Linked DNA regions of Homo sapiens: region 2 is linked to region 1. The links come from fine-mapping of genetic effects on gene expression. A gene starts in region 1. The other region holds a variant in brackets. All regions are shown on one strand. Distances are between the middles of the regions.

What was found. PIP is the estimated chance that this variant, and not a neighbour inherited with it, causes the effect.
Region 2: its variant is fine-mapped to the expression of SETX in whole blood (TOPMed, PIP 0.99).

The regions. Positions count from the first base shown.
Region 1 is chr9:132,349,449-132,358,389 of GRCh38, reverse strand. It overlaps SETX (senataxin), which reads left to right and starts at 3,404. Exons shown (of 26, transcript NM_015046.7): 1 at 3,404-3,473; 2 at 4,635-4,741. RefSeq lists silencers at 3,105-3,494, 3,545-3,754 and enhancers at 3,139-3,638, 2,620-3,819, 3,639-4,140, 7,148-7,197.
Region 2 is chr9:132,280,006-132,288,946 of GRCh38, reverse strand. It overlaps SETX (senataxin), which reads left to right. Exons shown (of 26, transcript NM_015046.7): 16 at 296-397; 17 at 596-711; 18 at 2,453-2,524; 19 at 5,534-5,683; 20 at 7,373-7,480. Among named protein-coding and RNA genes, the nearest start is that of SETX, 71 kb to the left of the region's middle. The variant A/G (reference allele first, on the strand shown) is at 4,158.

The DNA.
Region 1 (8,941 bases):
AGGAGGCTGAGGCAGGAGAATTGCTTGAACCGAAACCTGGGAGGCGGAGCTTGCAGTGAGCCAAGATCGCATCACTGCACTCCAGAGCCTGGGCTACAGAGGGAGATTCCGTCTCAAAAAAAAGCCTTGAGCAGGAATGGATTTTTTTTTTCTCATCAATGTTATAACAAAACCACATTGAACAAAATGATCTTATTAGAGAACCTGCTATACTTAATATTGTTAAGGTGTCAATTGATTCCCCAGATGTATCTAAAAATACAATTCAATCCCTATAAAAATTCCAACTGCTTGTACTTATTTATTTGCAGAAACGGGACAAGCCAATTCTAAATATTCACATGGAATAGCAAGGGACCTTAAGTAGCTAAAACAATTTTGAAAAAGAACGATACTGGAGGCCTCATACTTCCCAGTCTTTTTATTTATTTATTTATTTATTTATTTATTTATTTATTTATTTATTTATTTATTTTTGGAGATGAGGTCTCACTCTGTCGCCTCGCCTCTCGGGTTCAAGCCATTCTCCTGTCTCAGCCTCCCAAGTAGCTGGAACTACGGGCATGCACCACTAAGCCTGGCTAATTTTTGTATTTTTAGTAGAGACCGGGTTTCACCATGTTGGCTAGGCTGGTCTTGAACTCCTGACCTCAGGTGATCTGCCCACCTCAGCTTCCCAAAGTGCTGGGATTACAGGCCTGAGCCATTGCGCCTGGCCATGTTTATGGTTTTATCAGCTTTAGAAGTTTGTAATTTGTACTTATTTATTCATTCCAAATAAGTATTAATTTTCATTTCTAATTTTATATTTACAAAGTCTATTGCAGTGCTTCTGTTTAACATTCTATAGGTTGTGTAAGTTTTGGGCTCAACAATTCCTGAATGCACCTTGAATCAATGAGTCTCAGGACATAACATTGAGTGTAAAAAGCAATTTGCAGAAAAATACATCCTCCATAATTCCATATACAGAGTTAAAAAGCATGTAAAATTTATATGTTGTTCACAGACAAAAAATGTGGGAAGATGATAAGGCCTACAGAGGGCTTCAGGGACAGGAGGAAATTATGACTTTTGTGGGCTCTGGGCACAAGTTACCTTCATGGCACTTTTCTCCATTAAAAAAAATGATAAAAATTATATTTTATGGCCGGGTGCGGTGGCTCAAGCCTGTAATCCCAGCACTTTGGGAGGCAGAGGCGGGCGGATCACGAGGTCAGGAGATCGAGACCATCCTGGCTAACACGGTGAAACCCTGTCTCTACTAAAAATACAAAAAATTAGCCAGGCGTGGTGGCACGTGGCTGTAGTCCCAGCTACTCGGGAGGCTGAGACAGGAGAATGGCGTGAACCCGGGAGGCGGAGCTTGCAGTGAGCCGAGATGGCGCCCCTGCACTCCAGCCTGGGCGACAGAGCGAGACTCGTCTCAAAAAAAAAAAAAAATTATATTTTATGACTGTGGTGGTATAAAGGCTGTGTTGGTATATTAGTGTTATATGATAAAACAAAATATGTTCAAAATATTTGACAGGATGAAGAAGTAGAAAAGAGGAAAATAACGGTCAACGCGTGCTGCTCCTTAGACGGTTAAATTTGCATAACGGCCACCACGCCCTTCCAACAAGCCACGCCCCCTTGCTAGAATCTTCCTTCGCCTTGGGCCTTTCCCGCAGTGTTCCCCTGGGCTTGCTCCTCATCCTCGGGCCAGGGTTCTCCTCGGTAAGGCTGTATCTGACCCACTTTTCCCAAGCTGGCCCATCTCAGCCTCTTTTTTTATCGCCTGAGTCACCACTACTAATTGTTTAATTTCCCTGTCTCCTCTATTAACTGTAAGACGGTGACGCTGCATCATCGTGGTCAGTAGTAGGCGTTACTAAAAGGGGGTAGGGGCCGGGTGCGGTGGATCACGCTTGTAATCCCAGCACTTTGGGAGGTCGAGGCGGGGCGGATCACTTGAGGTTGGAGTTTGAGACCATCCTGGCCAACATGGTGAAACCCCATCTCTACTAAAAACATGAACATTAGCCGGGCGTGTGGCACACGCCTGTACTCCCAGCTACTCGGGAGGCTGATGCAGGAGAATCATTTGAACCCAGGAGGCGGAGGTTGCAGTGAGCCGAGACTGCGCCACTGCACTTCAGCTTGGGTGACAGAGCGCGACTCCATCTCAAAAACAAAAAAGGGGGGGGATAGGCTTTCCAGTGGATTTTACTCATTTTTATTTATTTATAGACTTTTCTGAGACAGGGTCTTGCTTTGTTCCCCAGCCTGGAGTGTAGTGGCACAGTCACGGCTCACTGCAGTCTCGATCTCCCGGTCTCAATGGATATCCACCCCCTGCCTCAGCCTCCCAACAAGCTGGGCCCACAGGTGCTAATTTTTTTTTTTTTTTTTTTTTTTCCGGAGAGAGAGTCTCGCTCCTTTGCCCAGGCTGGAGTGCAGTGGTGCGATCTCGGCTCACTGCAACCTCTGCCTCCCGGGTTCAAGCCATTCTCATGCCTCAGCCTCCTGAGTAGCTGGGATTACAGGCACCCGCCACCACGCCCAGGTAATCTTTTTATTTTTAGTAGAGACGGAGTTTCACCATGTTGGTCAGGCTGGTCTCGAACTCCTGACCTCAGGTGATCCACCCGCCTCGGCCTCCCAAAGTGCTGGGATTACAGGCGTGAGCCACCGCGCCCGGCCTCGGTGGCTGAGTTTTAATTTTTTTTTGTACATACGGGTGTCTCGCTATGTTGCACAGGCTGGTCTCTGAACTCCGGGCTCAAGCGAGCCTCCCGCCTGGGCCTCCCAAAGTGGTGGGATTAGAAGCGGGAGCCACCGCACCAGCGAGGGATTTACTCTGCTGTGTTGCGCATCGCGCGCATTGTTCGCAAGACCTAAGGTCTCCCTTTCTTGTAATATAAAGGATATACACATATTCCTCCGAAATTACACGTTTATGTAATTTACATTTCAGGTCTTTAAAGGAAATCTAAAGAGAAAAATTACTTCGTCACCGTAGTACATCCGCTGAGACACCTGAGGCGTGGAAAAAAGAAGAAAAAAGAGGGAACGGAAATGGCCAGCGGGTAAGGGCTGACCCCACCCGCAGCAGAGCTCATCCCGGAGCCGCCCCACCCGCAGGAAGCCCCGGGCGGGGCCGAGGTCAAGGTTCCGCGGCAAACTCTCCCCGTCCACCCTGACGGGGACTCGGGATTGGTCGGGCCCCAGCTGCCCGGACGTGACGCCAGCGCCCGGCGTGGGCGGTGCACCGCGGCCGCTCTTCCCATGCCCCGCCCCCTGGGGGGCACCAAAACCAGAAAGCAGCGGCCGGGGCGGGGCCTGCGGCCGGCCGACTCAGCGCGGGGGCGGGGCCTACCTCGCGGCAACAGCTGGTTGGTAGCTGCGGCTGCGGGCCCGCACTTCCGCTGGTGGCCTAGAGCGGGGCCCGGTATGGAGGTGGGCTAGAGGCCGACGCCAGCCAGAGAGCGGTGAGGGTAGCGGCGGGCTGGAGGCCGTAGGTCGGGCGGGCGTGAGCGCAGGCGCGGCTTGTGCTTGCAGGGCCGCTTCGGGGAACCATCGCGGCGCCTAGGTCCCGGTGGGCGGATGGGGGAAGAGTCGGCGCGGGCTCGGCCGCTTCCCTCGGTGCGGGGGCGGGAGCACCCCTCGACGGCTGGCGGCCGCCTGTTGCCTTCCTGCGCGCTGGACCCGGCCGCTGCGACCCCCTGTCCTTCCGTTGTCTACACTGCGGTCTCGTGTGAGCTGTTTTTGGTGTGGATACTGCGTAGTTTCCTTGGGGCTGAGCGGGAGGTCTCGGGGTGGAAAGTGTCGGTTCCCTCCACACGCTCGTCTGCCTCTCGCCTGGAGTCCCTCCCTTTGTTTTTTTTTCTTTTTTCTTTTTTTTTTTTTTTTGAGACGGGGTCTCGCTCTGTCACCCAGGCTGAAGTGCAGTGGAACAGTCACGGCTCGCAGCAACCTCGTCTTCCTGGGCTCCAGCGATCCTTCCGCCTCATCCCCCCGAGTAACTGGGACCATAGGCGCGCGTCACCACGCCCGGCTAATTAAAAACAAAATGTGTTGCAGAGACAGGGCCTGGCTGTGTTTCCCAGGCTGAGCTCAGCTGCTCCAGGGATCCTCCGAGCCGCCGCGCCCGGCCGGTCCCTTCGTTTGGAGGAGAGTCTGTTTCTCCCACTTGGAGGGGCTGGAGCTTTTGCTGCTGGCCACAGGACTTTGTCCGTCCTCCCCAACTTCTGGGGATCTAAGGATGTGCCCAGCAATTTGCACGACCCAAGTGAAACGGGGGTGACTGCCTTGAGGGAAAAGAGCTCCACAAGGAGAAGGCCGAGTGTGGTATTTGATAAGTGACACAGCTGAGGATCCTAGGATTGATGTTACCTGCGCGGGCTAATAACTTGGGGGATTTTTGGCTCGGTGCCTAGCTGTCCCCGTGAGTGGGGACAGCCCCTTGTGGAACTGGGAGTCAGAATTGCAGTTCTGCTGTTTCCTGGAAGTCCACAGCCAAGTTGTCTAACCTATCTGGGCTTCCTCATCAGCCAGCAGTATCTGTCTGTAATAGGATCGATACCAGGCTCAGATGGGATATAGAGTATAAATGCCACTTACCAATTTCGTTTTTTGTTTTTTAATTTCAGAAATGTTCTTTTGGGGCCAGAGTCTGGGCATATATGAATGCAAATCCGTGTTTGTTCACAACTAAGCCCAGCTGAGACGATCACTTTTCTGTAGGCCATTTGTCCAGGTAATAATTTTTTTTTTTAGCAGGAGTTCAGAGCACCAAGGTAAGTGCAATGATGGAAACATGTGCAGAGTCCTAAAGGGACAGAGAAGAAGGTCATCAGAGATAGACTGGAAGAGAGGACGGGTCGGACAGGCCCCCCCCCCAGACGTGATGACACTCAGGAAGAGCTTGCACACTGGTTGTTCTCAAATCCAGCTTTCTCTTCGAATCTTAGTGGAGTTCTTTAAAAGGGAAACAATTTTATCCATAGGATCTTTTCTACTTTTTTTTTTAAGTTCCTGAGGTAAGTCTGATGTGTATTCACAGTTAAGTACCGGGCAGAGGTAGGAGGGTGGGTTTCCAAGGCCAGTGGAAGAGCTTCCATAAAGGCAGGGAATACCAGTCACCATGAATGGTTTTAGGAAGAGCAAGTCAAGGGAGGTAAGTGTGGAGGAAAGAGATGATGTGGAAGCTGGATCATCGCGGGCCTTGTGTGTGTTGAGCTCAGCAATTTGAATTTTATCCCAACATTGGAGGAGGAGTCATTTGTGCTTTCGAAGTCCAGTTTGGGGCTTTGGCCTCTGGCAGCATTTTGGAGGAGGAATTGATGGCGATCAAAGAAGAAATAGATCATTTAGGCTTCTTCAGTAATCCAGGCAAATGATGAAAATGTACTGAACTAAGGCAGTGGCGGTTGCACTGAGAAGAAAGTAGAGATGTAATTAAGGGGTAGGCTCTGGAGCTCAGAGATTGCGGCTGAGGGAGAAGGAGCGTATAGGATAATTCCTAGGTTACTGGTTTGAAAATTGAATGTATGGTAATGTCATCAACAAGGGAATATAGAACAAATAACAGATTTAAGGGAAGGACTTCGTTGGGTTCTGGTCATGTTTACTTTGAGGTGCCTGTCAGATATGTGAGTAGAGATACACTGTATGCAGTTGGATATTGAATATATCTGGAGTTCTAGGCTAGGCTGTCAGTTATTGAGTAGGTGGAACAGTGCATCATTTCACTCAACCTCCCCAGTAGCTGCGACTACAGGTGCATACCACCATGCCCAGCTAATTTTTATATTTTTAGTAGATACGGGGTTTCACCATGTTGGCCAGGATGGTCTTGATCTCTTGACCTCGTGATCCCTCACGCCTCGGCCTCCCAGAGTGCTGGAATTACAGGTGTGAGCCACTGCGCCCTGCCTGCATTAAGTTTTACAATACATTCTCAGTCTGGGCAGCTTCAATCTAGGCAGTAGTTGAAGCAGTGGTTTGAAGTAGGCCGCCCAGAAAGAGTACTGAATGAAGAGGTGAGAATTCTCAGGACAAGCCTTCGAAAACTTTAGCATTTATATGAGTAACAAAGGCAGGGGTAATTATGAAGGTGATTGGGTAGAAGTGGTGTCCAAAAAATGGTGTGTTGTAGGTAAGGAAAGGATGGGCAGCATTTTCATATGCTTTAGCAGAGTCAGGTCAGGAACCTATTGGATTGGTAATGTAAAGATTGTTAGGGACTTCACATTCAGTGGAGTGTAAGGGTAGAAGCCAGAGTGCAAAGGAGCTGAAGAGCTGGGAGGTAGTGAATCTAAACTTCCAGATGTTTAGCTGAGAAGTGTAGAAGAAAGAGATTGTTATTTGAAGTTTCTGGCTAGTTAATGTTGAGAAATGGATAGCCTAAGGATAAGTCTGTAGAAAATTACAGTAATACCTATGGTGAAGCATCCTATATTTTTGGTTTTGACACATTAGCTCTCTTTTTGGTGGGTGCTCAGAGAGTTGCTTTAATTTTGGTTTTGCAACTTGAGTATTGTCTGGACACACCCATTTGTCATTCACTAATGATTGCAAGCCGTTACAGTCTGATGAAACTAACAAAATAGACCTCAAGAAGAACTGAGTTGTATAAAAGCTTAAGAGGATTCACAGTAGTTTAGAAGCAATAATTTTCTCCTTAAAGACAAAATATGCCCTATTGAGGTTTCCTGGGCTTAGCCATTAGGCCAGTGATGATTTTAAATTTGAAGACAAAACCACACACACAGCCTTTTGAAGAAGAACCATGGAAGCACATGTTCTCTTGTTGGTGTGCTCTGCAGCAGTATTCTCCGTTATCTTCTAGCGGCCATGACACTCACCTATTTTGGTAGTAACTCCTATATATTTTGAGAAAATTTAGTCTTGCTTTTTTGGTTGTGGAAATAGGCTAGTTTTCTAAGTGAAATAAAAAGCAAATTCTGTAATTTTCTTAATAGAAGGTTTCTTTTGTTGTCTCCTTTGTTAGTACTTATTTTAAAGTACACAACATTTGGAGCTTCAAGTAAGGTAAGTGGGAAAAGAAGTATGCAACATTTTATTTGCATGGTAGTCTCACTTAAGTTTTTTAAAGCTTAAATTGGCTGCAGTCTGTTAGCTGCTGAAATCATGCTTCAAATGTTTGAGAAACCTCCATGAAGTTTCACTTTCTGTTCTTACGTCTTCTAAGTTCACTTTCCATATTAAACTAGGTTACCGGAAAAAAAAACAGCTTCTGCAAGCTGTTAACTTACTAGTAGTGTGATGTTGGCCTCTTAGGTATAAGTAATTCTTCTTTTGAATAAAATAATTTTAAATTCTGCAGAAATACATTGAAGACCTTATCCCATGTTACTTGGCATTTCCTAGTCTGCAGTGCCCTTGTACTAGAAGGCATTAATAAAATGTAATTGAGTTAGAGTTTGTGTCAGGAAAGGGCGGTACTCTGCGGCTATCACTGCATACTCTTTTTCCCCCCCACGTCGATGAGAACTGTGTAACTCATGTTATCCTTTTTCTCTGCTTTCAGGAAGCTCCTCATGTAGAACTTAGTGAAATTAAATTTCTTCTAAAGAAGTTTTGATTTTGTTTTTTGAAATCTCATTTTTAAATGTCCTTTTGTGTGTATGTACTTTAATGTTGAAAGCTACCCTAAATTCTTTTTAGAACCATGAAGAAAGTATACCTCTTCAAAAGCATAAGTAAAAGTAATATTTAATAAATTTTAAAAAATCAATTCATATGACAATGTATTTGATTATGCTTATGCATTTCTAAATAATTATTTAATTGTGGGTATAAGAAGAAATTAAAGAATTTTAAAAAATCACTTTATTTTAGGAACTAGCTTTATGCCACAGAAGCCTCAGCAGCCAAGCCTAGTTTCTGTTGAGATGTTTTATATTTCCTGTTGGTAAAGATTATGTATTCTGAATTTTAGGGTGACGGTGATACTCAAAAATCTCACACTGCCATGTTTCCATTCCCACATACTCAGTGTCTTCACTTAGGTTTCTTTTGTTTGTTTGTTTTGAGACAGAGTTTCACTCTGTCACCCAGGCTGGAGTGCAGTGGCGCAATCTTGGCTCACTGCAACCTCTGCCTCCCACGTTCAGGCAGTACTCCTGCCTCAGCCTCCCAAGCAGCTAGGATTGCAGATGCGCACCACCAGCTAATTTTTGTATTCTTTTTAGTAGAGATGGGGTTTCACCATGTTGGCCAGGCTGGTCTCGAACTGCGGACCTCAAGCAGTCTGCCCACGTCGGCCTCCCAAAGTGCTGGGCTTACAGGCATGAGCCACCGTTCCCAGCTTACTTAGGTTTTTTAACCTCCTTCTAACCTTTCTCCCTGAGTGGAGAGTTTTTAAACATTTTTAAAAACTGCCTCTCCTGTGAATTTTATTACCACCAATATATTGTGTCTCTCTTTATGTACTGTATGTTTATCTGAGCTTTATATCTAAAAAGAGGAGGGCTTTTTCACGTCCCACTAACTAGTTTTAGATCTCTTTGAGGGTGACATCACTCCTGATGAGAATGCTGAGCTAGGTCCATTCAGTTTATGAAATGAACTTAAGTTTGTAGTTGGTAACTTTTTTCCCCATTCCAAAATCTGTACTTTGAAAATATTGGTAAGTCTGGGTCTCTATATATTTTCTATCGGTACTGTGTTGTTTTGAGCCTTCTCTGTAGCACAACTTTATGTTGCCTTATGATACTTATTCCTTATACAATGCTTTTATTTTTCTGTATTTTTCGTATGTCAAAAATAGAAGGATTTTTTTAGTTTAGTGAATCAGTGATTGATAAGCCAGCCAGCAGAAGATTTGGGTTTTAGTGACACATTTTAAATTGAAACCAGGGTCACAAGTTGAAAGTGTACCTATTCTTGACACACAGTAGGTCTGAAGTTGGTTTTCTTCTTGATGTCATCT
Region 2 (8,941 bases), 69 kb after region 1:
TGAAAATGTTACTGTAATAGAATCTCAACTCTGTAGTGTACTGTTTAGATGGCCTTGCTAACCTTTATTAGGTAGAAATGATAACTACTTGCCTTATAGGATTGTTAGGAACAATATCTGAAATAATGTATAAGAAGTTTGTGGTGTAGTCCCTGGTGTCTGGTTAATTGGAAGTTCATGTTTGCTCCCTTCTCTGATTATTAACATATTTACTTAGAAATATAGATACTATGTATAGAGACAGGATTGATCAGCAGTGTCCTTATTAGTCCTTAACTGTGATTCTTATCAACAGGAAACTGTGGAGATATAAATTTAGTACGACTGGGTCCAGAAAAGTCTATTAATAGTGAGGTTCTAAAGTTCAGTTTGGACAGCCAAGTAAACCACAGAATGAGTAAGTACTGAATGTGGTATATACTAGTGTTTTCTCTGTTTTGTTTGGTGGAAAATGACTTGGGCACTAAAGGTAATTTGAAGCCTCCAGAATTAGTCTGGCTTTGGGAACTAATTTTCCTTCTCATTGTGTTGTATATGTGTGTGAGTTTGTTAGAATTAGAATAGCATATAATTTTTTATTTGTTATTTTTATTAGAAAAAGAGTTACCTTCTCATGTTCAGGCGATGCATAAAAGAAAGGAATTTCTAGATTATCAGCTGGATGAGCTTTCCCGGCAGCGAGCTCTATGCCGAGGTGGACGGGAAATACAGGTATCTTTGCATTTCTTGAATAATAACTCAGGTATACGAACTAGTTAACAAGTTTTTTTTGAGACAGAGTCTTGCTCTGTCTTCCAGGCTGGAGTGCAGTAGCACAATCCTGACTCACTGCAGCCTCACCTTCCTGGGTTCAGGTGATCCTCCTGCCTCAGCCTCCCGAGTAGGTGGGATTACAAGGTTGTGCCGGCACACCTGGCTAATTTTCTGTATTTTTAATGGAGATGGGGTTTCACCATGTTGGCCAGGCTAGTCTCGAACTCCCGGCCTCAAGTTGATCTGCCCACCTCAGCATCCCAAAGTGCTGGGATTACAGGCATGAGCCATTGCGACCAGCCTAATTAATGAGTATTTAATGCCCTTTATTTATTGGGGAATGGCATGATTCATGTATAAAAATGTGTACTAAGACACTAAAAATGTGTCTCAGATTAACACATTTCTTTCTGCTTTTTTTTTTTTTGTCCTTTTGGTTTTAATTTTTTTTTTCATTTTTTCTTTTATTAAAATTACTTTTGTTAAAAATCTTTTTAAAAACTTTTTTGTAAAGGGCAAGATATTCTAGTAAAGATTTTAGGCTTTGCAAGCCATATGGTTGGTTTCTGTTGCAGCTATTCAACTCTGCTTTTGGTAGCACAAAGGCAGCCATAGATAATACATAAACAAATGGATGTGGCTGTGTTCCAGTAGAACTTTATTTACGAAAATAGATGGGGTGTTGCGTTTTTGTTTGTTTTTGAGATAGGGTCTCACTTTGTGGCCCAGGCTGGAGTGCAGTGGTGCAGTTGTGGTTCAATTTAGCCTCAAGCTCTTGGACTCAAGTGAGCTGTCTTTCTGCCTCAGCCTCTTGAGTAGCTGGGACTACAGCCGTGTGCCATCATGCCTGGCTAATTTTTTTGTTTGTTTTCTGTAGAAACTGGGTCTTGCCATGTTGCCCAGGGTGGTCTGAACTTCTTGCCTCAAGCAGTCCTCTCACCTTAGCCTCCCAAAGTGCCAGGATTACAGGCATGAGTCCCTGCACATGGCCTTGCATTTGGCTTATAGGCTGTACTGCCTTATATTAAAGCTATACTGAGTTTATTAGTTGCCTTTCAGTTGCATGTTGAGCCCAGTTCAAATTAGGTTAGACAGAAAGGGAATTAGCTTCAGTATGGGTGGATCCAGAGGGTCACATGATATCATTTCTCCACTCCATAATTTGTTTTTCTGTGTGTCAGCCATTTCTTCTGAGAAAGGTGAGTGTCAGCATCTCAGGGCTTCCACCATCTCAGCTTTGAAACCCCAGAGGGAGAGAAAGTCTTTCTCTTAGCATCCATATATCCAAAGAAGCAGTTAGTTTAGTCCCTGGGTGAGCAAGCAGGTCTAATCCCTATTTTTAAGAAGATGGGTGCATGATTGGCCAGGCCTGTGTTAGATGCCCATCACTGTGGCCAGAGGAATGGTTGGGGTGTGATTTACAGCCTCATTTGAATCACCTGGAAGTTAAGGGTGGCGTGATGCTCCCAGTGCTGGAATGCTAAGCAGACAGCTCACGTGCAGCGCACAGAACACAGCTGAGTCTTACGCAGCAGCATACAGAGTGTGTCAGGACTCCAGTGGTAAAGAGGAAATAAGCTGGGTAAATACATTTTTCATTGGTGAAATACAGGCTCTTTTAAAATTAGAGGTAGTCCATTGGAAGGCATTTAAAAATGCTTAGTTTAGTTTTAATTGTGACATTTGAATTTTTTTCCAGAGGCAAGAATTAGATGAAAACATTTCCAAAGTTTCTAAGGAAAGGCAGGAACTTGCTTCTAAAATTAAAGAGGTAAGTAGTTCACCTGTAGCATTTTCTTGATTTTTTTTTTTTTCTTTTTAAAATTTAAGTATGACTGTTCAGACAAGCTATGGGCTTTTATTTATTTATTTTGGAGACAGAGTCTCACTCTGTCTCTCAGGCTGGGGTGCAGTGGCATGATCTCAGCTCACTGCAACCTCAGTCTCCCATGTGGCTGGGATTACAGGCGTGCACCACCATGCCTGGCTAATTTTTTTTTTTTTTTTTTTTTGAGGTGAAGTCTTGCTCTGTCACCAGACTGGAGTATAGTGGCGTGATCTTGGCTCACTGCAACCTCTGCCTCCCGGGTTCAAGCGATTCTCCTGCCTCAGCCTCCCGAGTAGCTAGGATTACAGGCGTGTGCCACCACGCCCAGCTAATTTTTGCATTGTTAGTAGAGACGGGGTTTCACCGTGTTGGCCAGGATGGTCTGGATCTCTTGACGTCATGATCCTCCTGCCTCAGCCTCCCTCAAAGTGCTGGGATTACAGGCGTGAGGCACCACACCTGGCCTCTTTTGTGTTTTTTTTTTTTTGAGACAGAGTCTCACTCTGTTGCCAGGCTGGAGTGCAGTGGCACAATCTCAGCTCACTGCAACCTCTGCCTCCCAGGTTCAAGTGATTCTCCTGCCTCAGCCTCCCGAGTAGCTGGGACTACAGGTGTGCGCCACCACGCCCGACTAAATTTTGTATTTTTAGTAGAGATGGGGTTTCACCATGTTGGCCAGGATGGTCTCCATCTCATGACGTTGTGATCCGCCCACCTCGGCCTCCCTAAGTGCTGGGATTACAGGCGTGAGCCACCATGCCTGGCCCTTTTTTTGTATTTTTAATAGAGATGGGGTTTCACCATGTTGGCCATGCTGGTCTGGAACGTCCAACCTCAAGTCATCCCCCGTCTCGGCCTCCCAAAGTGTTGGCATTACAGGCGTGAGCCACCATGCCTGGCCAGCTATGGGCTTTTCTCAGTTACATTTTAAATTGTTATGAAAAATTACAAACATCTGTGGAAGTGGAGAAAATGGTGTAACAACATTTGCATTTTTTTCTTTAACCTAAGAATGAATTCTTACCACCATCTAAGATTTCTAAGAGGTGGTTATAAGTTATCTTTTTTGTTTTAAGTCTGGTAAATATTTAAATTCTTTCTTATAAGGTGCTCTATTTCTGCTTCCCATAAACTGCAAAAAACAATTATGATAATTATCATCAGATAAACAGTTAATGAAAATAGCTTTGGCCAGGCGCGGTGGCTCACGCCTGTACTCCCAGCACTTTGGGAGGCCGAGGCGGGCGGATCACGAGGTCAGGAGATTGAGACCATCCTGGCTAACACAGTGAAACCCCGTCTCTAATAAAATACAAAAAATTAGCTGGGCGTGGTGGTGGGCACCTGTAATCCCACCTACTCGGGAGCCTGAGGCAGGAGAATGGCGTGAACCTGGGAGGCAGAGCTTGCAGTGAGTGGAGATCGCGCCACTGCACTCCAGCCTGGGTGACAGAGCGAGACTCCGTCTCAAAAAAAAAAAACAACAAAAAAAATAGCTTTGTGGGTGTTTTCACTATTAAAAAAAAAAAGTCACCTGTATGAGCTTTAGGATGAGGGTGGCAACTGTGAGCCCTCC[A/G]GAGCTCCAACCTGGATAGAAGTAGAGTGATGGTGGGCAGAATTCGGCAAAAGAAAGTACAGCACTTTGATATTTGGTTTTTGTTTTTTGCAATTCTTGGGTTAGAGCATAAACTCCCTGTACTTGTGTTGGATCATAAGACTCCTGTAACATTTTGTAGCTTTTCTCCAGTATTTTTTGGATGTGAAAATATCCTGTAAGATTTAGACTCATTGAAGCTTGGCCGAGCCAGGTGTATACCCTGATTGTCAGAATGCAGCCCTAATCAAACCACACTGGGGTCAGGGAAAGAGGGTAATAGTAACTGATGACGTTAGTAGTATTTTTGCTGAAGTTTCCTCCTGAATGGATTATGATCTTTCTCTATGTGACTAAAATATAGTTGAATTTAATGCATATTTTCATTAGCAGTTTATTTAAACTAAAAGTTATGTGAAAGCTTTTGATTAAACAGATTTTAATCAGATTTTAAACAGAACCCCAGATTAATCTTTCCTGAGTCAAGGATGAAGTCCATCTTCACAGATGTTTTTTGCTGCTCATCACATGTGTTCTGTGGGCCATGAAACTATGCTCAGCAGTTGTACTCACTAGGTGGCTGAGGACAGTGTCTGACAGTGCTTTACTGTGTGAGCCGTGGAGGACCACAGTGCCACCCTCTTCCTAAAGCTCACACGAATGCCTTGAATTCCATGGTTGAATATATCGTATGTGCTGAGATGAATCACCACTACTTCTTAGTAGCAAAAAGCAGCAAACTGAATCTCTGCTGGAAATGCTGATTGACTGAGCAGTGTAGGTGTGACTGTGAGGCGTCACTCACGTCCGGCTCCATCACAGCACACTGCGTTAGAGAGGGAGACCAGACTGTTCCTTACTGTGGAAATAGAGGATTTGTCAGGTTCACAGGCATTTTTGTTAGTACTAGCAAAAGCACTAAAAAAAGACAGGGCAATATTATATACTTAAAAACTAACAGAAAAATGTACATTCAGGCTGAATTCCACCCCTGGTTTTACTCATATAATTCACAACTCAGAATTATTACATCTCTACTTCAGATACCTACCTACATATATCTGACTACAGGAAGGATTGTAATCTACTTTGACCAAATCAAACCCTGGATAAAAATTTTTAATGTGCTTAAATCATATTCTGTGTTTCAGCCGCGAAGCACACATTCTTTCTGCTTTGTGATTATCTTAAATGTTTCTGCTGTTTCCTAGATTTGAGGGTTTCCCCTAACTTTTACTAAATATTTTTCTGTCATAAATCTATTTTAATAAATAGTGAGTGTTTTATAGTAAACATAGGCCTGTCATAGTCAAGGATTGATGTACAGCTGAATATTGATTTAACCTTTGTTCTCTTAGGTTCAAGGACGCCCACAGAAAACACAGAGTATCATCATCTTAGAGTCCCATATCATCTGCTGCACGTTGAGCACAAGTGGTGGTTTACTACTTGAGTCTGCTTTCCGTGGGCAAGGGGGTGTCCCCTTCAGCTGTGTCATTGTTGATGAGGTCAGTGAACGGTCAGCCATACAACTTTGACTACTACTATGAGGAGTAAGTCTTAGATGAATTGTGGCTGCTGAAATGTTGAGGAAATGTGTTTTTTTTTTTTGCATCTGATTTTCACTTGCTATTACCTGTGTATTCCCTTATGTAGAAATATACTCCTTAATGACCCTCCATAGTGAAAGTGGATTTTCCAGTATTGGGGGTTAGTCTTGAGGATGACTGATGGTTTCTAACAAAATCTCTGCTGAGTGACTGTCTCACTCCTGCTTAGAATATCTCTGGTAACCTTTTGAAGTAGTTTTAATATAATTTTGGATAGCTTTGAGCCACAGTATGTTCACCTGATGTCTTTTATTCCTAGTTCACTCTTTGAGCAAACATTTATTGGGTACGTACTGTTTGTCAGAACGTAGAGTCAGAAGACAAAAGAGATGGAGCAGGAGATACCAGAGAATTGAGTGATCAGGAGACCCAAGATCCAGTTTTCACCAGAAGGAAAGGACAAAAAGTGGAAATGATTAAATAGTTGAAGAAAATGTCATTGAATTTAAGAGAAATTTGAGTCTTGTCATCAAAGAGGCATGCTGAGGAACAAGGAAGAAAGATATGGGGAAACACACTCATGGACGCTCCTAATGTGATTTCTGAACCTCAAATACAAAGTTTTGAAAAGGGCCTGGGCATGGTGGTGCACACCTGTAATCCTGGCACTTTGGGAGACTGAGGAGGGTGGATCGCTTGAGCCCAGGAGTTTGAGACCAACCTGGGCAACATGGTGAAACCTTGTCTCTACTAAAAAGACAAAAATGAGCCAGGAGTTGATGGTGTGTGCCTGTCATTCCAGTTATTCGGGAGGCTGAGGTGGGAGGATTGCTTGAGCCCGGGAGGCGGTGAACAACGATCATGTCATTGCCCTCCAGCCTGGGTGACAGAGTGAGACTCTCTCTCTCAAAAAAAAAAAAAATAAGTTAAAAAATAAATAAAAAATTTAAAATAAAGTTTTAAAAGGACTTTAAAGGAGAAAAATTTTTCAGGCTCATGCCCAGCAGGAACAAAAAGCACGCATCTAGGATGTGCATGGCCTTCTGAACTTACGGCTGGTTCCCAAGTGGTAGTGGCCCCGTTGGTGGCTGACTTCAAAAATACAAGTTTGATTTTTTTTTTAGACATGTTTGGAGAGTTTACTTTTTATTTATTTATTGTTTTTTTTGAGACGGAGTCTTGCTTTTTTTTTTTTTTTTTTTAGAGACGGAGTCTGCACTCACCCAGACCGGAGTGCAGTGATGTGATCTCGGCTCACTGCAACCTCTGCCTCCTGGGTTCAAGCAGTTCTCCTGCCTCAGCCTCCCAAGTAGCTGGGATTACAGGCACTTGCCACCACGCCCAGCTAATTTTTTTGGTTGCGCCATGTTGGCCAGGCTGGTCTTGAACTCCGGACCTCAGGTGATCCACCCACCTCGGCCTCCCAAAGTGCTGGCATTACGTGTGTTAGCCACTGCACACAGCCTGGAGGGTTTATTTTGTTGGTTTTGTTTTGTTTTTTTGTTTTCAGGGAAAATTTGTATTTTTGATATTTGGTGCAGGAGAAGTGTGATACTTTTCTGAATGGTTAGAACTTTAATCAGATAAACTATATGGATAAATAGCAAAGATTGTTAAGACTGCCTCTCTCTTCTGTATCTTACCAAGGCTGGACAGTCTTGTGAAATTGAGACTCTTACTCCACTCATCCATCGCTGCAATAAGCTCATCCTAGTAGGAGATCCTAAGCAGCTCCCTCCGACAGTCATCTCTATGGTAAGTTTTTTATGTTCAGATTGCTTTAAAATGGAAGGGGCTTTTTAAAATTTTTGTTTTCAGGAGGGAGAGACATCTTTCTTGGATTGGCCTCTTAATTTGGAGGGAAAAGTAAGCAGTAACTAAGAAAAGAGAAGCACTTAATAAATTTTAAAAAATGCCTAAAAATGTCCATTTGGTCATAGTTGTTCTTCTGTGTATGTGTGGCAGAAGCAGTGTGGCAGGGACTTGGAAGCCTAGATGGATGACGTGCCATGGAAACCAAGCTTTGGGAAAGGCAGTGTGCATGTCTGCCTTTTTTAAGTCTCTTAAGAGCTGAATCTGATTTATTTTAATCATACAAACACCAAAACAATAATAAAAGAAAAACTTCAGAAATAAAGAGAAGAATCCTACCCTCCTCATTTTTGTTTAAATATGTACAAATTGAGGAAAACATGAAGTTAAATTAATTTTGGAGTACATTTCCATTTTTAGAATTTGGTATTCTAGTGTTAATACAAGAACATGTCTGTGCCCTTCACATCATCTGAAAGTGAAGGTACAGGGGAAAAAAAGACTCAATTACAAGCTCTGACTTTGGGAAGAGAAGAACCAGACTGTAGTCTACTCTTCTCTGTTGGTTTTTTTTAATCTCATGAAAGATTCTCCTGGAAATGCACATTAGAATCAGGATCCAGTAGATGTTTTGAAGTAATCTGAAGAGGTTTTGAAATTTAATGAAATGTGTATTTTTTACTAATAACATAGATTATTTATACAGATAATTGAGCAGTGGCTTCATAAATAATCCTAGAGAACAGATCATTTTCAAAGCATTTTTGTTGAAGCTTGGAATGAATGCAGGTGGTTATCGTTAGTGGTTTTTGATTTCGGAATTATTCAGAATGATAGTGCAGTTCTTTGTATGACATTTGAGCGCAGGTACATGATCATGTTAGAGTGTGGCCCAGAAGCACACCCGTCACCCAGTGAAAACCCGTGTGTGTAGGGAAGAACTGCTGCAGGTAACTTTGTTCACGGAGAATAATGAAGAGCAAATTCTGTATCCCATTTCTTTAAATGATGCAGGATTTCATTGAAGGGCCTTGGCATATAGTGAAAAGAGAGATTGTTAATGGGCCTCAACTTTACTGCCTACTTCAATGATTGATAAAAACAACAAAAATTAGAAAAAAAAAATCCATTTGTGCTGTTTAAATTGTTGTACAAATAAAACAGGCTATTTTGAGAAAATAATTACAAAGTTCATTTCCATAAGGTGCCTTTTTTGACCACCTGTTTCTAGTGGTAATTACAGTGAAAGTGAGTATTTTTAACAGATATTGCTAGGCATTTGTGTGTTTATTCGTCTTTTTCAGTATGTATATATTGAGTGCCACCATAATTCAGGCACTGTTTAGGGGCTGGGGTTATGACAGTGAAGAAAACAGACAAAATCCCTGCCCTTATGGTGTTTGT